Homo sapiens: one gene and its partners. The protein of the gene in region 1 interacts with the protein of each later gene in a biochemical or structural test. Each region holds a gene or a part of one and is shown in the gene's direction. Other genes may lie near its edges.

Region 1 (5,590 bases):
AAATTGGATTCGTTGGGTGATTATTTTGTGAAATGTATAAGCCTAGTACATTAAACAGTTTTGTTTGGAGAAGAGTTTTACTTTATATTTCATTTTCTTTTGCAGTGACTTTAATCAAAGTACTGTGAGAAGCAGAAAAGAAAAGATCTTAGTAAGTTTGTCTTAGTTGTTGAAGCTAAGCGAGATGCAGAATGTAAGCAAAACAAATGGTGTAGGAGAAAAGTACCCCCCAAACACATGTAACTGAATATCCACCCAATGATCACTTTTTCTTAGATAACTTGGTAATATTTAACAGAAATATAACATTTCTATAAGAAATATAATACTTAGTTCTATAGACATAGCAACACTTACATATTATAACACGAACGTCAGAAAACCTCCTTTAATTATGTTTCGTCTGCATCTCAGTAATTTCTGATGAAAATTGAATTCAGCTACATGGTTCTCAAATTTTGTTCTGATGTATTATGTGATCCAGTAATACTCCACGATATGATATCTGGCCTTTTCGTTTTTTATGGTTTCTTTTTTTTTTTTTTGGAGAACAACTAATACTTTGTTACTTTTCTTGTATGTTTTCCTTTTTGTTTGGTTGATTTTTCTCCCTAGCAGAAACAGCATGATGTTAGGATGAGGATTAAGCTGTAGTGTCTCGATTTCTTTCTTCCTTTTGTAATATTCTTTTATTCCACTCTTATTTTATACACTAAAAATATGTAAGGAACTTAAGAGCATTTACAAAATTCTTAAAATACAGTTTTAGTACATTTAAACAATTATTTCTTTCATGTATCCATCATGGAAATAATGCTTATTCATTGAAGATAATTTTTTAAATGTAAGGAAGAAAAAAAAGAAAAGATAACTAAGAAAGATAAGTTTTTTTTTTAAATAGCTGGTTTTACAAATGGGAAGTGGTTTTTGATTGTTTTAATGTATATTTCTTTGATTACTGTTTTATTCCAGAAGAGGATTTAAAGCTGCTTTATGGGTTGCTAGGAAATACAAACTTACTGAAGTTAAGAGAGGGAGAGGGTGGGATGTAGTATGATAACACTAGGAGGAGGGAAAACCCGGGACTATGAAACAGGGCAATTGCTAGGTAGAAAAGGGAGTGGAGTTGTGTGAACGTTGGTGTGGGGAAGGGGAGGCATTTTAAGTCGTTAGTGTGGGAATTACTGTTATTCAGCCAGCAATACTAACCTTAGGTATAAACATGCAGTCTTAGGGACAACACGCATATCCAGTAATTATTTGGAAGGCTATTCACCAGAATGTTTAGTGGCTTTCACTTGTGAAGATGTTTGGGCTCATTTTTCCTTTCTTTTTTATTCCTTTAATTATTGAGATTTGAGTATTTTATAAAGTAGAAAATCAGAAGTGGATTATACCCATTTGCTTTTCTGGACAGTGGGGCTTTATCCGGTTTCAAGCAACAGCAAAACCAAAGGGTTCACATTTTATTCCACTTAAAAGAAATTTTAACATTTTCTCAAAAATGCTAATAGCTTTATTATTTATTACAATAATGGAAAAAATAAACACAGTAAGATAACGTATTTTAAGGTTCAGCATTTCTTTCTGATTAGATCTTTGAAATACAGGTTAAACTCAAAAAGCTTAGCGCCGTTTAACTTTATTAGCTTTAACTTTTAAAATATGCATAATATGTACCCTTATTTTTATGTTCTTTGAGTATATGAAGATAATTTATTCTTAGAATTTTTGTTTTAAAAATTTGGGGGTACTGACACTTAAATGAAAAGTTTGATACTTAAAGTTTGTGGTTAGTTTATTGAATAGATATTGTAAAAGGTTATTGAAGGAGACCCTTAACCTGTATCTTCTCTTCCTCTTTTTTTTTTTTTTTTTTTTTTTTTGAGACGGTGTTTTGCTCTTGTTGCCCAGGCTGGAGTACAATGGTGTGATCTCGGCTCACCGCAGCCTCCACCTCCTGGGTTCAAATGATTCTCCTGCCTCAGCCTCCCTAGTAACTGGAATTATAGGGATGCACCACCATGCCCGGCTAATTTTGTGTTTTTAGTAGAGATGGGGTTTCTCCATGTTTGTCAGGCTGGTCTCGAACTCCCCACCTCAGGTGATCTGCCTGCCTCGGCCTCCCAAAGTGCTGGGATTACAGGCATAAGCCACCGCGCCTGGCCTCGTTCTTTTGATAATTTTAAAATTGTTTGGATATGTGTCTTTGTTATCTTGAATCGCTCAAAACTGTTCAGTGTAAATGTAAAACTGATGAAAGTCTTCTGAACTTATTTTTCCTCCCTGGAATTACAGTTGATTAAATTGTATACATGTTTTTATTTTACATGCAGTTTATTCAGCTATTCAGATACCTTTCTGAACATAAGTGTTTTATTCAGACAACATGTTGGAAATAATATATTAGAATCCTAATGGTTATTTTCAGGGAGCATTTTACCTCTTTATACAGTAGTCTATATTTGAATTGAATTTTCTGCTTCAAACACTTAGACTTTACCAGTTAGGAATCCTTGGAGAAACACACTTTTTAGATAGAATTCAGCCTGGACCAATCCGGAACCATACTCTACCATATTTTACCCTATAGAACTTAGTGTAAGTTGTAAGCCTGTATTATTTAATACTTTTATAATCCAAAATCTTGTGTGTTTTTTAATTTTCTAAGTACTCATAAAATAACGATGTTCATTAGATTAAACAACAACAACAAAAAATTGTAGTTACTGATGGTTTTGCAGCCTACTGATTCAGATCTGAGGCATTTTTAAAGTTACGTTTTTGGCTCTTGCCCCAGAATATGTACATATAGGAATGAGCAAGATACGTACATAATGTGTATGTCCAGAGAGTAGGATTTTATTAAAAGTGGATGTTAAGGATTCACTGCAAAATTTGGACAAGATCCTGAATTATACACCCTCAGTATGCAATATTACTTTTTATAATATTATATAACATTATTATTTGTTATTTGGAGTGATTCATTGGTTATCTCTGGTAGCTGAGAGAAAAGGTAGTGAGATTATGTTGCAGCTGTGCTTGATTTGTTTTAAACTTTTGTAGAAACGCCACCTCCTGGATATATCAGTGAAGATGGAGAAACAAGTGACCAACAGTTGAATCAAAGTATGGACACAGGTAAAAAAAATGTCTTTGAAAATTCCTCAGTTATTAGATATACATTTCTTGTATTGTTTGAAATTCACAAAAGATGTTACTCTTAAATTTAGAGAAGTTGAGACGCATACCAAAAAAGATGATCTTCTATCTTGATTTAACATATCTGAACTACCAAAGAGGTCCATGTTGTCACTGAAAAATTATAACGTATGCTACTCTGCAGAATAATTGTTATTTTTTATTAGAGTAAATGAAAATTTGAAAACATGCACATACTTTTATTTCTTTTTAAGTATTTGCTTCTGTTGAAAATTTTAGTAACCCTATGACTAAGTATCTCTCTGTGATAAAAAACCATAATTACTCAAATAACAGATTTTCAGAGGAATTTGGGGGTGAAGGATGGGGATCAGCTTTTCACTGCTTTTTTAACCTAATAGTGAGTTTTGAATTATAGTAGATTAATTTCTTATGCTTAGCTATCAACTCCAAAAAGTGATGAAGAAAAAAATTAAAGCTTTAAATCACGTCTTACGTAATAAAATGTATAACTCAGCAGAACTAATAAACTACCAGTGAAATCACTTTGATGTCATTGTAATTGTCCAGTTTGATTCATTTTACCTGTCTGTATCTTAACTGTTGGACACCTTAATATCACAACCTGACAAATTATACCATCAGTCTTTCTCCACATCTTAACACTAATGCATTCTTGGTTATGATAATCTAAATTATTTTTAAGTGGATTAACATTGGTGGGGGAGGGAGGGGTTACAATAATTCTCTTGTTTAAATCCGTTTTTTTGGACTCCCAGGTAAAGAAGTTTCTGCTGTAGCTAATCATACATTTGGGTGTTTAGGAGTACCAGATAACTAAGAAAGGTAGATAATCTAATGAACGTTGGAAATAACGTGTTATACATCTTAATGCAAATAATATTTGACTTTCCACATATGTTTTACTAAAATTAGATGACACTCTTCTTGAAGCAATAATATTCTTTTTTGCCTGTGATGGACAGCTGTTACTGTGACATTTAAAAGTGAATGATGGGAAAAGATACTGAACGTCATAAACCACAGTGAGATACTACCTCACACCTACTAGATGCTATAATCAAAAAAGGACAATAACAAATGTTGGTGAGGATGTGGAGAAATTGGAGTCCTCATATATCGCTAGTAGGAATGTTAAATGGTTCAACACTTTGGAAAAGTTTCCTGTTCCTCAAAAAGTTAAATACAGAGTTAACATATTGTGGCCAGCTATGTATCCAAGTGAACTGAAAACATGTCTACTCAAAAACTTGTACATGACCATTTATGCAGGCATTATTCTTAATATTCAAAGTTAGAAACAACTCAGATGTCCATCAAATGATGAATGGATGAATAAAATGAGGTATGTTTCTGCAATGGAATTATTCAACCATGTAAAGGAATGACAGTATAGCATGACGTGTGGCAACATGGATGGACCTTGAAAGCAGTATGTTAAGTGAAATAAGCCAGAAAAAAAAGGCTGCAGGGATTCTAATTTAGTGCACAGACACCTATTCAGCAATATAACTGAAACACAGGAGGAGCAATAATACAAGTATTCGTTATGTATGATAAATGAATCAAAGTACAAAAGTGGAGAATAAGCTGAATCAGCCAGCTAAAATAATTGCAGTGTTGGGGCTAACTTTGAACCCAACCTAATATTTCTGTTTCAGTGGAGCAGTGTTACTGGCTTTCTGAATGACAGGTTTAAAAATTACTGTATGGCAATGGGAATATGTGATTCATGAGATGCCAACAGTTAGTTTGGCTGCCAGCCTCTTACCCAATATCAGTTTCTCTCTTGGGGCCATGGCAAGAAACAATTCTGACTGATGCAGGGCTCCAATTTAGAACAAAGTTGGCCACCTCTCTAACTCTGGTTCATACCTTCCAGAAGGAAGGACATAATTAAATTCATCTTTCATAACCTGCTGTTAAAAATAATGAATTGAAATTTTTTAAAAGGGCAACCAGAGGATAAATTAGGCATAATAAGTAAGTGTACGAACAAGCACTTGTTACTTTTTTCTTTTTTTTTTTGATTTAGATTTTGCTGGTCAAGACTTTATTCTTCCTTTATAGTGGATATTAGAGATCAGGCTGGACATCGTAAGAAATTTATAAGTTCGATTAACCTTTGTAGTATTGTATAATCAGTCCCTTTTCAAGTCATGATTTTTATGAACATATTTGTTCAAACAGGTATATAGAGAAATAGAATATAATAGATCATAAGATGTGGATTTCATAACTCACAATTCAGTTTTGTATCTTCTACATACACTGTGCTTGGTCCAAGATACACAAAGAGACTTAAAGGGTTTTTTAATCTGCCTGTGTCCCAGAAGATAAAATGAGGTGCTAACCTCCAATACCTCAGAATGTGGCCTTGTTTGGGAGTAGCATCTTTGTAAAT
Region 2 (4,636 bases), on another chromosome or scaffold:
AGACAAAAAGGGTAAGCCCAGAGGAGAGACTGGGATGATGAGGATGAGATCCTACTTGACTATCAGCTTCAGCAAGAGCCTTAAATATTAAGAGACATACCTGAAGGCCGTGATATAAAAGAAAAGCCTCTCTCCCACCTCTAGAGGAAAGAACTGGACCGATTTTAGGGAAATGCATTTGATCTTAAATTTCATCACAGCCAGAACTATAAAATATGAATGTATTAGTCGATGAATTTTCTCATTTAGAGAGATGATCCTACATGACTCTGGGGGTACAATAGAGAGGACTGTATGTGTATAGGTAGGAAGCTGAGCTAAGCTTCTGAAATCACTTACTTTCAAGCTCAACATACTTTGATAATCATTTATAGTGACTCACAATCAATTCCCTTTAAGACTTTCAAAGTCACAAATTGAAACAATGCTCATAATGAATTAAGCCAGTCTGTATGTGTGAACCAGGGTGAGCAGAGACATGAAGTAAGCAACAGTAAGATTTCACCTAATGAGGTTGAGACTTAAATAAAAGGGCATGATATTGGGGAGGAATAGAAAGGACCTAGTCTATAGCTAGGGAGTAATGGACTACGGGGGTTGATGGAAGGAGGTAATGATCAACCGATTTATCAAGACCAAATTCAAATGGAAATTCTGATAATCCTAGTCATCTTATGTAATTTTCTCATTTGAAGTCACAACATGGACTAACACTTTCTTTTTTTTTCTTTCCAAATGTGATAGGAAAGCAAAGATATCCTGTTAGTGGATCTAAACTCTGAAATCGACACCAATCAGAATTCTTTAAGAGAAAATCCATTCTTAACAAACGGCATCACCTCCTGTTCTCTTCCTCGACCAACGCCTCAGGCATCCTTCTTGCCTGAAAATGCCTTTTCTGCCAATCTCAACTTCTTTCCCACCCCTAATCCTGATCCTTTCCGTGACGATCCTTTCACACAGCCAGACCAATCGACACCTTCTTCGTTTGATTCTCTCAAATCTCCAGATCAGAAGAAAGAGAATTCGAGTAGCTCGTCTACTCCGCTGAGTAATGGGCCCCTGAATGGTGATGTTGACTACTTTGGTCAGCAATTTGACCAGATCTCTAACCGGACTGGCAAACAGGAAGCTCAGGCAGGCCCATGGCCCTTTTCAAGTTCGCAAACCCAGCCAGCAGTGAGAACTCAAAATGGGGTATCTGAAAGAGAACAGAACGGCTTCTCTGTCAAATCCTCCCCGAACCCTTTTGTGGGAAGCCCTCCCAAAGGACTGTCCATACAGAATGGCGTAAAGCAGGACTTGGAAAGCTCTGTCCAGTCCTCACCACATGACTCCATAGCCATTATCCCACCTCCACAAAGTACCAAACCAGGAAGAGGCAGAAGGACTGCTAAGGTGAATTGTCTTCTCCACATATCCATTAGCAGAGTGCATGTTCGGTACCAAAGGGTGGTGTGATGCAAGCTCTCTTTCCTGCTGCTCTCGTAGTTTCCTGTGTTGCTGTGAAATAGAAGGTGGGATAAGGCACTTTGGTTCTCCAGGAGTACTTTCCTCTAACTGCCACCGTTTTTAAGCTTCTCAGCAGTGTTTTTCACACCCTGCTTTCCGTGTGCATGTCTTGTCACTTATGATTAAACTAAACACAAGTTTTTCCATTTTTAATGCTGCTATGCTTCTATACCTCTGGTAAGTTTGATCATCGTGTTCTGGGTTGGGAGGGTGAGAGTTCTTGTGATTCCCTTTGTACTTCCCTGACACTAACACATGCCCTGCACACCCATCATGTTGCATCAGTGTCCATGGTGGTGGTATAAAATTCTCGAGCTTATCTCCTCTTTTAAATACTGAGTAAATACATAAGCTTTTTCTAAGCTTATGTATTTACTATTACCACTATGATCTCAGCTTTATTTAAGAGCAATTTAAAATGCAGTTCCCATAGGTGTCTTTTTTTACCTCTCCTAAGAATATACAGGCTTGCCTGGATTAAGACCCTATGATCTCTATGTAGACTGACTTAAAATCCAATGGAATGAACAAAAATATTTAGGATGCTTATTGGTAGTTGCCCCTTTTACACACTTGCTCCCCCAACTTCAAGCATTTAGCGATGAGACCAGACCAATGTGAGTGTGTAAAGGAATATAGTAGATTTCACTTTGCAAGTCCTAGGTAGTGTCAGACACTAAGACTCAGTAGTCCGTCCGTTGTAGGAATCTGTGTCTTTTTTTGGAGGACTCTTTTTCTGTAGTAGTAGTTGTTGTTGTTCATCTGTCAAGAAAAAAGTTTTCCTTTTTGTGGCTCTCAAATTGGGGTATAGGGTAGGAGACAAAATGAGGCTGTATTTCACTGTTAGTGAGTAACTAAGGCTTCTCCCTCCCTCCCTGTCCTGTCAGTCTTCAGCCAATGACTTGCTTGCATCAGACATCTTTGCTCCTCCCGTCTCAGAACCTTCAGGCCAGGCGTCACCCACAGGACAACCTACAGCCCTGCAGCCCAACCCTCTGGATCTCTTCAAAACAAGTGCTCCTGCCCCAGTGGGGCCCCTGGTGGGTCTAGGTAGGTGCCTAGAGATAAAATTAAGTATGACTCTTTTGCTTTTGCTCATAAAATGATGATGCATCGGAAGAGATTTCATACTCCCAGAGGGTTTTACAGCATAAGATTTGAGCATCCCAGGGAGCCCTTCTCCCACTTCTACTATACAACCCCACATCCATTTGATATTCTTGACTTGTAACTCACATTTGGCTCCTCGAGGCAGCATGAGACAAGAAATTCATTTTCAGTATTGTACTTACTTGAACCAACTGGTCATGGTTTCCTGAAAGACAATTGTAAGGGATTCTAAACTCAGACCAGCTTCAGTAGCAAAACAGGGTTGACATAAGAGAGGCTTGTCTGTCAACATGCATGTCTTCCATGTCTTTTGCCATAATAGATCGAAGGCCTATGTCCTTTCAACACATAGCCCTCTTAGAAGGAATATATGCCCAAGAAGGATGTAAGTTAAGTCTGAAGCAAGAATAAGTCATAGAGTGAAAGTCCTAGGTTCTGGGCCCAGCTGTGTTCCTAGGTGTATGGTAAGGGTAGATCAGGCACACATCCTGATCAGTCTCTGAGCACTTCTGCCATAGGAGCTCCTTGCCAATATTTTGGCTAGCTTGAGTGTTTTACTGAAGCTAGAACATAAGTCCTAGAAAGCCAAAGTTGAAAAAAGAGAGAAATAAGGGAAGAGATGGAATTTTATCAGACAGCTAGTATGCATTGACGCTCTTAATTCCTAAATGTGTCATTAGCTTGTGTGAGCCGCTGATCACTCTGTGGTAGGACAGTGGGAAAGTCCACTTGACTGAGGGCTGGCCTTGCTATTCTTAGTCCATAGCCTATAGTTCTTTTCAGACTCCATGGTACAGTTTTCAGAAACCCTGACAATAGTTTTTGCTGTCCTGCTATGGACTCTATTTTTCTTCTCTTGGCACCTCTACAAACTCCAAATGGACTCTGGCTTGGGAGGTGGAGGACTGTAGACGAGGAAGGACTCTCCTCTCCTTCGGTAAAATCTGACCAGGGATCCTGGCTTTCTCTGCCTCCTGCAGTCAGTCATCAGGATCCTTGTTTTGTTTTCCTCTCTGTCTCTGTTGTTTTCCTACAAAGGAAAATAGTTTGGTTCTTTTACAAGAAATCTGTTTAATCATATCTAGAATAGGGTGGCCAGAGGAGGACTGTTACTCAACTGCTGAGTGGCAGAAATCCGTGAGGGTATGAAAAGCCAGCTTGTCCCAGGTCTCTGCTCGCATTTACCCCATCAAGAGGCTCTCTCTAAAGACTTCATGTCTCTTGGGGGCTTCCCCCTTTCTGCGTTGCTCTTTTCCTTGCACCCCCAAGTGGAGCTGGTTGGTACCCTTCCCTCACAGAAGACCAGAGTGCTTGCAATGCAATGTCTGCAGCGAGATCACATCACAGAGCTTTTTATCTGATATCAATGCCCTTAAGAATTTTTGCAGCCAATATTTAACAAGTCAGCCTGAAAATACAGCTGGACCCTATAACTGTTTATTTATTCAGACGAAGTGAAGCTTTTTGGCTAGGTGCCCCTGTTGAGGGCTTGGGGTATACAACTGCAGAATACTGATGATTGTTCCAAGTTTGGACATGGGACTCAAACTGAGCTCTACAGTATAGTCCCTGTCCACTAGCAGGGATCCTCAGCCAAACCATGGAAGGTTGTAGGTCTGGCTTCCGCTAGACCCAGCTGGGGGACTGTCTCCCCTGGAGAACTGGGGGGGTGGGGAGAGGGTATTGTAGAAAGCTGAGCCCTCAGATTCAACTTGCTTGTATTTTAATCTAGCCTCAGAAGGTAATAAAATTAATGTTCTATACCCATGTCCCCTTTTTCCTTATTCCTTGCCCCTACTTTGTCAATGTGTTCAATGTGTTCAATGTGTTAAAACACAATGTGGGGATTTGGTGGGTAGGAATGAAGACTGGTATAAGTATATACTGGGAAAGCCTTGAATTCCTGGCAAATGTAATATTTTTCTCTCCTTTTTTTTTTTTTTTTTTTTTGAGACAGAGTCTCACTCTGTCACCCAGGCTGGAGTGCAGTGGTGCTGTCTCAGCTCACTGCAAC
Region 3 (4,636 bases), on another chromosome or scaffold:
TATGTTTCTTATTTGTTATTACCAAAAGTTACCTGAAATTTGGTACATAATCTTTTAGGACACTAACCTGTAAAAAGATAATGCAATTTTTTAAATTTTCTTGCTTTGCTGTTTGCCTTAATTTTTTATTTATTTATTATTATTTTTTTTTGAGAGATGGTCTTGCTCTGTTGCCCAGGCTGGGGTGCAATGGTGTGATAACGTAATGGTTCACTGCAGCCTCAGCCTCCTGGGCTCAGGTGATCCTTCCACTTCAGCCTCCCGGGTAGCTGAGACTACAGGCACTTGCCACCATGCACAGCTAATTTTTGTATTTTTTGTAGAGATAGGGTTTTGCCATGTTGCCCAGGCTGGTCTCAAACTCCTGGGCTCAAGCAGTGTGCCCACCTTGGCCTTCCAAAGTGCTGGGATTACAGACATGAGCCACCTCGCCCAGCCTTATTCCACTATTGATGATTGTCTGCATCAGTGCTAGTGGCGTTGCTGCTGCAAATGGTGTTGCATTGACTACTCTCATTACCTATATCTGAACATGTTCATGCGTTCATGCGTTTCTTTTCTTTTCTTTCTTTTTTTTTTTTTTTTGGAGACCAAGTTTTGCTTTTGTCACCCAGGCTGGAGTGCAATGACGTGATTTCAGCTCACCGCAACCTATGCCTCCTGGGTTCAAGCAGTTCTCCTGCCTCAGCCTCCCGAGTAGCTGGGATTACGGCACCCGCCACCACACCCAGCTATGTATTTTTAGTAGAGACGGGGTTTCGCCATGTTGGCCAGGCTAGTCTCGAACTCCTGACCTCAGGTGATCCACCTGCCTCGGCCTCCCAAAGTGTTGAGATTACAGGCATGAGTCACCACACCCAGCCACGTTCATGGGTTTCTGTAGGATGAAGTCCTGGAAGTAGATAGCACTATTCTGTTTCTTCAGTCTCTCCCGGCCAAGGAGATGGAACAGGTAGCATCTAAGGAATAGATTAGATTTGACAGTTTGATTGGTTTAGGATTTGTTTCATTTGATACTTTATTTTCCCCTCCAAATCTCTTTCAGACTTTGCAGGAAAAAAAAGTCATTCCTTGTCCTCCGTTTTATGAGTCAGATCATCCTGTCAGAGGTAACAACTGCTTTTCTTATTGGGCTGACCTCTAATGACATGTTATGTATATTACAGAAATTCAAAATCATGTAATGTACCTGCTCAGTGAGGTATTGGTGTTTGCTTTATGAATAATGTCACTATTTCAAACAGCTAATTAAGTCAGTGTAAATTATGGCCCTCTGGGTGACATCTGTGTTTCACGATAAATGACATGAAATGGATCCCGACTTTTTATTACAATTCTTCATAATTTGCCCTGATTATAATCCAGCAGAAAAATTACCATTTGGGGATGAGTTTGGGCTTCTTGGGTCATTGTACCTGTGCATTATATTTAGTCAATGAAATCAGGGCCTTTGATTTTTTTTTTATCCATAGTGGCTATTCCAAACATAAGCTGCTTTTTCTTGTATCTGGTTGCTGTCATTTTTATGAGCTACTGATTAAGATGTGTCTTTCAGTTCTGGATGTGCTGTGGATTGGTACCTACGTCTTCGCCATAGTGTATGCTGCTGCAGATGGGACCCTGGAAACGTCTCCAGATGTGGTGATGGCTCTACTACCGGTATGCCTGTGGAAGAAATTTCATTGTTTGAGAATTAGAGAAGTCTTCTAATAAAGCTGGAGGCTTTGATTTCAAGGGGTTTTTTTGTGTTTGTGTTTTTTTTTTTTTTTTTTGAGACAAGATCTCACTCTGTCGCCCAGGCTAGAGTGCAGTGATGCGATCTCACCTCACTGAAGCCTGGACCTCCTGGACTCAAGTGATCCTCCCACCTTAGCCTTCTGAGTAGCTGGTACTACAGGTGCACACCACTATGCCTGGCTAATTTTTTTTTTTTGGTAGAGATGGAGTTTCACCATGTTGCCCAGGCTGGTCTTGAACTCCTGAGCTCAAGTGATCTGCCCACCTAGGCTTCTCAAAGTGCTGGGATTACAGGTGTGCGTCACCGCACCTGGCCTGATTTCAGGTTCTTTTACTTACTGGCAGTGATTATGCAACTTCAGGTATAAGGTTTCCATGCTGCACCATGGGCCAGGGGTCTAAAATTGGAGTGTCCACAGCATGTTCTACTGTTATGAGGTTAAAAAAAAAATGATTTTGCTTAAGCTATAAACTATGAGTCTTGGTTAACTCGATAAATTTTAGAAAAGCAAGACAGTATCTTGATTTTTAAAATTATTTCATTTGCTCTCGAATATTTAATGCCAACAGTGTGCTAGGCACTGCTTTAAAGCTGAGTATATAGCAGTGATCAAGGTGATGGGCTTGCTTTTATGGTTTTAAGTTTGTTGTTGTTGTTAATTTTTATTTATTTTTTAGAGACAGAATCTCACTCTGTTGCCCAGGCTGGCATGTAGTGGTGCGATCACAGCTCACTACAGCCTCAAATTCTTGGGCTTAAGCCATCCTCCTGCCTCAGCCTCCCGAGTAGTTGGGACCACAGGCATGCACCAACACAGCCAGCTGTTTTTAAATTTTTCGCAGAGGTAGGGTCTTGCTTTGTTGCCCACGCTGGTCTCGGACTCCTGGCTTTAAGCAGTTCTCCCGCCTCATCTCTCAGAGCACTAGGATTACAGGTTTGAGCCACCACACCTGGCTGGTCTTACATTTTAATGGGATAGTCAATACTAAATGTGAGATCAAGGACTGATAAGAGTGATGGAGAAAATAAAGCCGTGTTAGGGATAGATGATGACTGGTATGTGTTTGAGATTGTGTGTCAAGGGAGGCCAATTTGATACTTGAAAAAGATGTCTTGTTTTTAACTCTTTTGGATTTCTAATAAGGTTGAGTTTTTGAAATATGTTTATCTAGATGCCTTATTTTAAGATTAGAGGTTTTTTCTATTCTAGGGGATAATATTAACACTAGTATTTATTAACTGCTACTTATGTTTCATGTACTGGGCTGGAAGTTTTGTATGTATCATTTCATTTTACACTTTACAGTAGCCTCTGAAGTAGGCTTAGTAGGTCTAGTATACACATGAGAACACTAAGTATCAGGAAGGTTGAAAAATCTGCATGTCTCGTGGGCAGAAAGTGGCAGAACAGAGTTTAAATGCAGTTCGGTTGATGGCCAATGTTTGTACTCCTTGTACTAAGTGCTGCCTTTATACCATGTCCGTATATCTGGACTTTGAGTAAATATTCTCATATAACTTTAAATGATTTATTATTTGAGATTCTTTTGCTGTGGGATCTGAGAAAAATTGCACATGAGAATTTTTTTTCTTGCTTTGTTCATTGTAGAAAAAAGAAGAAAAGCACCCAGAGATATTTGTGAACTTTATGGAGCCCTGTTATGGCAGCTGCACGGAGAGACAGCATCATTACTACCTCAGTTACATTGAGGAATGGTGAGCAGAGAGTCTGGACAGGGCATTCCTGCTCTCACTGGAAGATCACACCTGAGTCACCTTGTCCCATGTTGAAATCTTTTCTGATTGATTGATTGATGGATTGGCAGGGTCTCACTCCATTACCCAGGCTGGAGTGCAGTGGCACGATTGTAGCTCACAGAAGCCTGGAACTCCCAGGCTCAAGTGATCCTTCCACCTCAGCCTCCCAGATGGGACTACAAGCACATGCCACCACACCTGGCTTATTTTTAAATAAGTTTTTTGGTTTTTGTTTTTTGTTTTTAGAGATGGGATCTTGCTATGTTGCTCAGACTGGCTTCCCAAAGTACTGAGATTACAGGTGTGAGCTACCGCACCCAGCCTGAAATCTTTTCCATTACAGAGGAAAATGGAGGCTGAGATGCCTTGAACATATTTTCAGCTGATTCTTGATAATGTCTTTCTATTATTTCTGTTTCCCCAATCTTGAATTATTTATCTTAAATACATACTAATTTCAAAAATCTAATTTTCTCAATAACCCCTAGTGATGACTTACGAAAATATTGATATTCAAGGAATATATTAAAAGTTTCCTGAGAGCAGAGTTGCCCTTTGGAATGGAGATTACTCAAAGCAAAGCTTCCATCCCTCTAGCTACATTATTCTGCCTTTGGATGGCATATTGATTGTGAACTGTGACTTGATTCTGTTGTGTCTTTCCTTTGTCTTCATGTAGGTAGGCACTGAGCTGATTCTACAGGGCTTTCTCACAGAAACTAAAAAGTTCAGCTTTACATCTAGAATCTTCCCACCTTTGTTCAACCAGATAAAAAACCTTACTCTCTCTTTGACATGTGGAGGCAGCCCTCACAGGTGTTACCTGCAGACCCAGGTTAGCTTAGAACTATTGCTGTATTTGAACGTAATGGTCTCTGGTTTTATTCTTTAAGGGATTTAGTGCTGGCAGCATCTGCGGCTTCAACAGAAGTTAGTATCCTTGCTCGACAAAGTGATCAGGTAAATCTCTTTTTTGTCACTTCTGTGGTGCTTTCTTTTTTAAATTATTATTTTGAGACAGTCTCGCTCTGTTGTCCAGGCTGGAGTGCAGTGGTGCAATTTCAGCTTACTGCAACCTCTGCCTTCCAAGTTCAAGCAATTTTGTGCCTCAGCCTCCCAAGTAGCTGGGACTGTAGGCGC
Region 4 (3,426 bases), on another chromosome or scaffold:
TTTAAAAACACAGTTGTTTATACTGCCCATCCTAGGATGCTCACCTTCCAAGATTCAACGTGGCTAAAACATCTTCTGGTAAATTGTGCGTCCATATTCATTTTGTCAGTAGCCAGGAGAAATGGGGATGGGGGAAATACGACTTAGTGAGGCATAGACATCCCTGGTCCATCCTTTCTGTCTCCAGCTGTTTCTTGGAACCTGCTCTCCTGCTTGCTGGTCCCTGACGCAGAGACCGTTGCCTCCCCCACAGCCGTTTGACTGAAGGCTGCTCTGGAGACCTAGAGTAAAACGGCTGATGGAAGTTGTGGGACCCACTTCCATTTCCTTCAGTCATTAGAGGTGGAAGGGAGGGGTCTCCAAGTTTGGAGATTGAGCAGATGAGGCTTGGGATGCCCCTGCTTTGACTTCAGCCATGGATGAGGAGTGGGATGGCAGCAAGGTGGCTCCTGTGGCAGTGGAGTTGTGCCAGAAACAGTGGCCAGTTGTATCGCCTATAAGACAGGGTAAGGTCTGAAGAGCTGAGCCTGTAATTCTGCTGTAATAATGATAGTGCTCAAGAAGTGCCTTGAGTTGGTGTACAGTGCCATGGCCATCAAGAATCCCAGATTTCAGGTTTTATTACAAAATGTAAGTGGTCACTTGGCGATTTTGTAGTACATGCATGAGTTACCTTTTTTCTCTATGTCTGAGAACTGTCAGATTAAAACAAGATGGCAAAGAGATCGTTAGAGTGCACAACAAAATCACTATCCCATTAGACACATCATCAAAAGCTTATTTTTATTCTTGCACTGGAAGAATCGTAAGTCAACTGTTTCTTGACCATGGCAGTGTTCTGGCTCCAAATGGTAGTGATTCCAAATAATGGTTCTGTTAACACTTTGGCAGAAAATGCCAGCTCAGATATTTTGAGATACTAAGGATTATCTTTGGACATGTACTGCAGCTTCTTGTCTCTGTTTTGGATTACTGGAATACCCATGGGCCCTCTCAAGAGTGCTGGACTTCTAGGACATTAAGATGATTGTCAGTACATTAAACTTTTCAATCCCATTATGCAATCTTGTTTGTAAATGTAAACTTCTAAAAATATGGTTAATAACATTCAACCTGTTTATTACAACTTAAAAGGAACTTCAGTGAATTTGTTTTTATTTTTTAACAAGATTTGTGAACTGAATATCATGAACCATGTTTTGATACCCCTTTTTCACGTTGTGCCAACGGAATAGGGTGTTTGATATTTCTTCATATGTTAAGGAGATGCTTCAAAATGTCAATTGCTTTAAACTTAAATTACCTCTCAAGAGACCAAGGTACATTTACCTCATTGTGTATATAATGTTTAATATTTGTCAGAGCATTCTCCAGGTTTGCAGTTTTATTTCTATAAAGTATGGGTATTATGTTGCTCAGTTACTCAAATGGTACTGTATTGTTTATATTTGTACCCCAAATAACATCGTCTGTACTTTCTGTTTTCTGTATTGTATTTGTGCAGGATTCTTTAGGCTTTATCAGTGTAATCTCTGCCTTTTAAGATATGTACAGAAAATGTCCATATAAATTTCCATTGAAGTCGAATGATACTGAGAAGCCTGTAAAGAGGAGAAAAAAACATAAGCTGTGTTTCCCCATAAGTTTTTTTAAATTGTATATTGTATTTGTAGTAATATTCCAAAAGAATGTAAATAGGAAATAGAAGAGTGATGCTTATGTTAAGTCCTAACACTACAGTAGAAGAATGGAAGCAGTGCAAATAAATTACATTTTTCCCAAGTGCCAGTGGCATATTTTAAAATAAAGTGTATACGTTGGAATGAGTCATGCCATATGTAGTTGCTGTAGATGGCAACTAGAACCTTTGAGTTACAAGAGTCTTTAGAAGTTTTCTAACCCTGCCTAGTGCAAGTTACAATATTATAGCGTGTTCGGGGAGTGCCCTCCTGTCTGCAGGTGTGTCTCTGTGCCTGGGGGCTTTTCTCCACATGCTTAGGGGTGTGGGTCTTCCATTGGGGCATGATGGACCTGTCTACAGGTGATCTCTGTTGCCTTTGGGTCAGCACATTTGTTAGTCTCCTGGGGGTGAAAACTTGGCTTACAAGAGAACTGGAAAAATGATGAGATGTGGTCCCCAAACCCTTGATTGACTCTGGGGAGGGGCTTTGTGAATAGGATTGCTCTCACATTAAAGATAGTTACTTCAATTTGAAGGCTGGATTTAGGGATTTTTTTTTTTCCTTATAACAAAGACATCACCAGGATATGAAGCTTTTGTTGAAAGTTGGAAAAAAAGTGAAATTAAAGACATTCCCAGACAAATACTAAGACAATTTGTTGCCTATGGACGTCTGCCTTACAAGAAATACTAAATCCTTCACACAGAAAATAAATGACACCAGATGGTAACCTGAATCCACAGGATGAAATGAAGAGCACCAGAAATGGTGGATATATGTACAACTAGCAAAGACTGTATGATTGTATAGCTGCCATAAATTACTACAAATGCCCTGGCTTAAAGCAACACCTATTTATGATCTCAGAATTCCATAATTCAGAAGTCTAGGCATAGCTCAGATGGTTCTCTGCTCCATATTTTAAAAGGTCAAAATGAAGGCATTGGCTGGGCAACATTCTTTTCTGGAGGCTCGGATGAATAGGCTTCCAAGCTCATTGAGGTTGTTGGCAGAATTCAGCTCCATATGGTTGTAAGACAGGTTGGCCAGGGGTGGTTGTCAGTTTCTAGAAGCCACTCAAATTCTTTGGCTCGTGGTTCCCTCCTCCATCATCAAAACCAGCAGCAATGGGTTGAATCATCCTTGCACTTTTCTCGGATCTCCCCTTCTGCCTCATCTCTCCACTGTCTCTTCCACTGCATCTCTCTAATGCTTCTGCTTCCCTCTTCTGCTTTTAAGGGGCCATGTGATTACTCAGGGGGCCATCTGGATAATCCAGGATAATTACCCTATTTAGTAACCTCAGTTTTACCTGCAAAGTGCATTCACTGCAGTACCAAGATTAGTATTTGATTAAATAACTAGAGAATGGGAATCTTGGGGAAATAATTTGCCTACCAAAATAAATGTAAGTTATCTTTCAGTAGCATAAGACTATATAGTAATTACATCACCATACTGTTGGGTTTACAATATAGGTGCAGTGTATATTAATAACAAAGGAGTGGGTAGGAAATGGAACTCTATTGGGACAAAGATGTATCTTATTAGAATTAATTAGTCCTAATTTGAAGATGATTGTAATAAATTGAAATGCATGCTGTAGAGCCTGGAGTAACCACTGAAGCATCAATTTAAAAATAAATTAAAAAAAACAAAATGGTACACCAAGAAATATTTAACACAAAAGGCAGAAAGAAAGAAGCAAAATGATAGACATTTGGAAAACAAATAGCAAAATGGC

What was found. The genes of interacting proteins can lie anywhere in the genome.
Region 2: the proteins of SMAD2 (region 1) and DAB2 form a complex in vitro, tested with the Homo sapiens proteins (one study listed by BioGRID).
Region 3: the proteins of SMAD2 (region 1) and NUP214 form a complex in vitro, tested with the Homo sapiens proteins (one study listed by BioGRID).
Region 4: of the proteins of SMAD2 (region 1) and TGFBR1, one has a biochemical effect on the other in vitro, tested with the Homo sapiens proteins (one study listed by BioGRID).

What each region holds. Positions count from the first base shown.
Region 1 is NC_000018.10:47,862,613-47,868,202, reverse strand, and holds part of SMAD2 (mothers against decapentaplegic homolog 2), read left to right. Parts: intron 1-3,069; coding exon 3,070-3,144; intron 3,145-4,101; coding exon of another isoform or gene 4,102-4,163; exon of another isoform or gene 4,164-5,590. UniProt on the Homo sapiens protein: Receptor-regulated SMAD (R-SMAD) that is an intracellular signal transducer and transcriptional modulator activated by TGF-beta (transforming growth factor) and activin type 1 receptor kinases.
Region 2 is NC_000005.10:39,379,380-39,384,015, reverse strand, and holds part of DAB2 (disabled homolog 2), read left to right. Parts: intron 1-744; coding exon 745-1,398; intron 1,399-2,399; coding exon 2,400-2,562; intron 2,563-4,636. UniProt on the Homo sapiens protein: Adapter protein that functions as a clathrin-associated sorting protein (CLASP) required for clathrin-mediated endocytosis of selected cargo proteins.
Region 3 is NC_000009.12:131,131,551-131,136,186, forward strand, and holds part of NUP214 (nuclear pore complex protein Nup214), read left to right. Parts: intron 1-1,045; coding exon 1,046-1,109; intron 1,110-1,555; coding exon 1,556-1,659; intron 1,660-3,347; coding exon 3,348-3,454; intron 3,455-4,389; coding exon 4,390-4,456; intron 4,457-4,636. UniProt on the Homo sapiens protein: Part of the nuclear pore complex. Has a critical role in nucleocytoplasmic transport.
Region 4 is NC_000009.12:99,151,868-99,155,293, forward strand, and holds the end of TGFBR1 (TGF-beta receptor type-1 isoform 1 precursor), read left to right. Parts: 3' UTR 1-2,325; downstream 2,326-3,426. UniProt on the Homo sapiens protein: Transmembrane serine/threonine kinase forming with the TGF-beta type II serine/threonine kinase receptor, TGFBR2, the non-promiscuous receptor for the TGF-beta cytokines TGFB1, TGFB2 and TGFB3.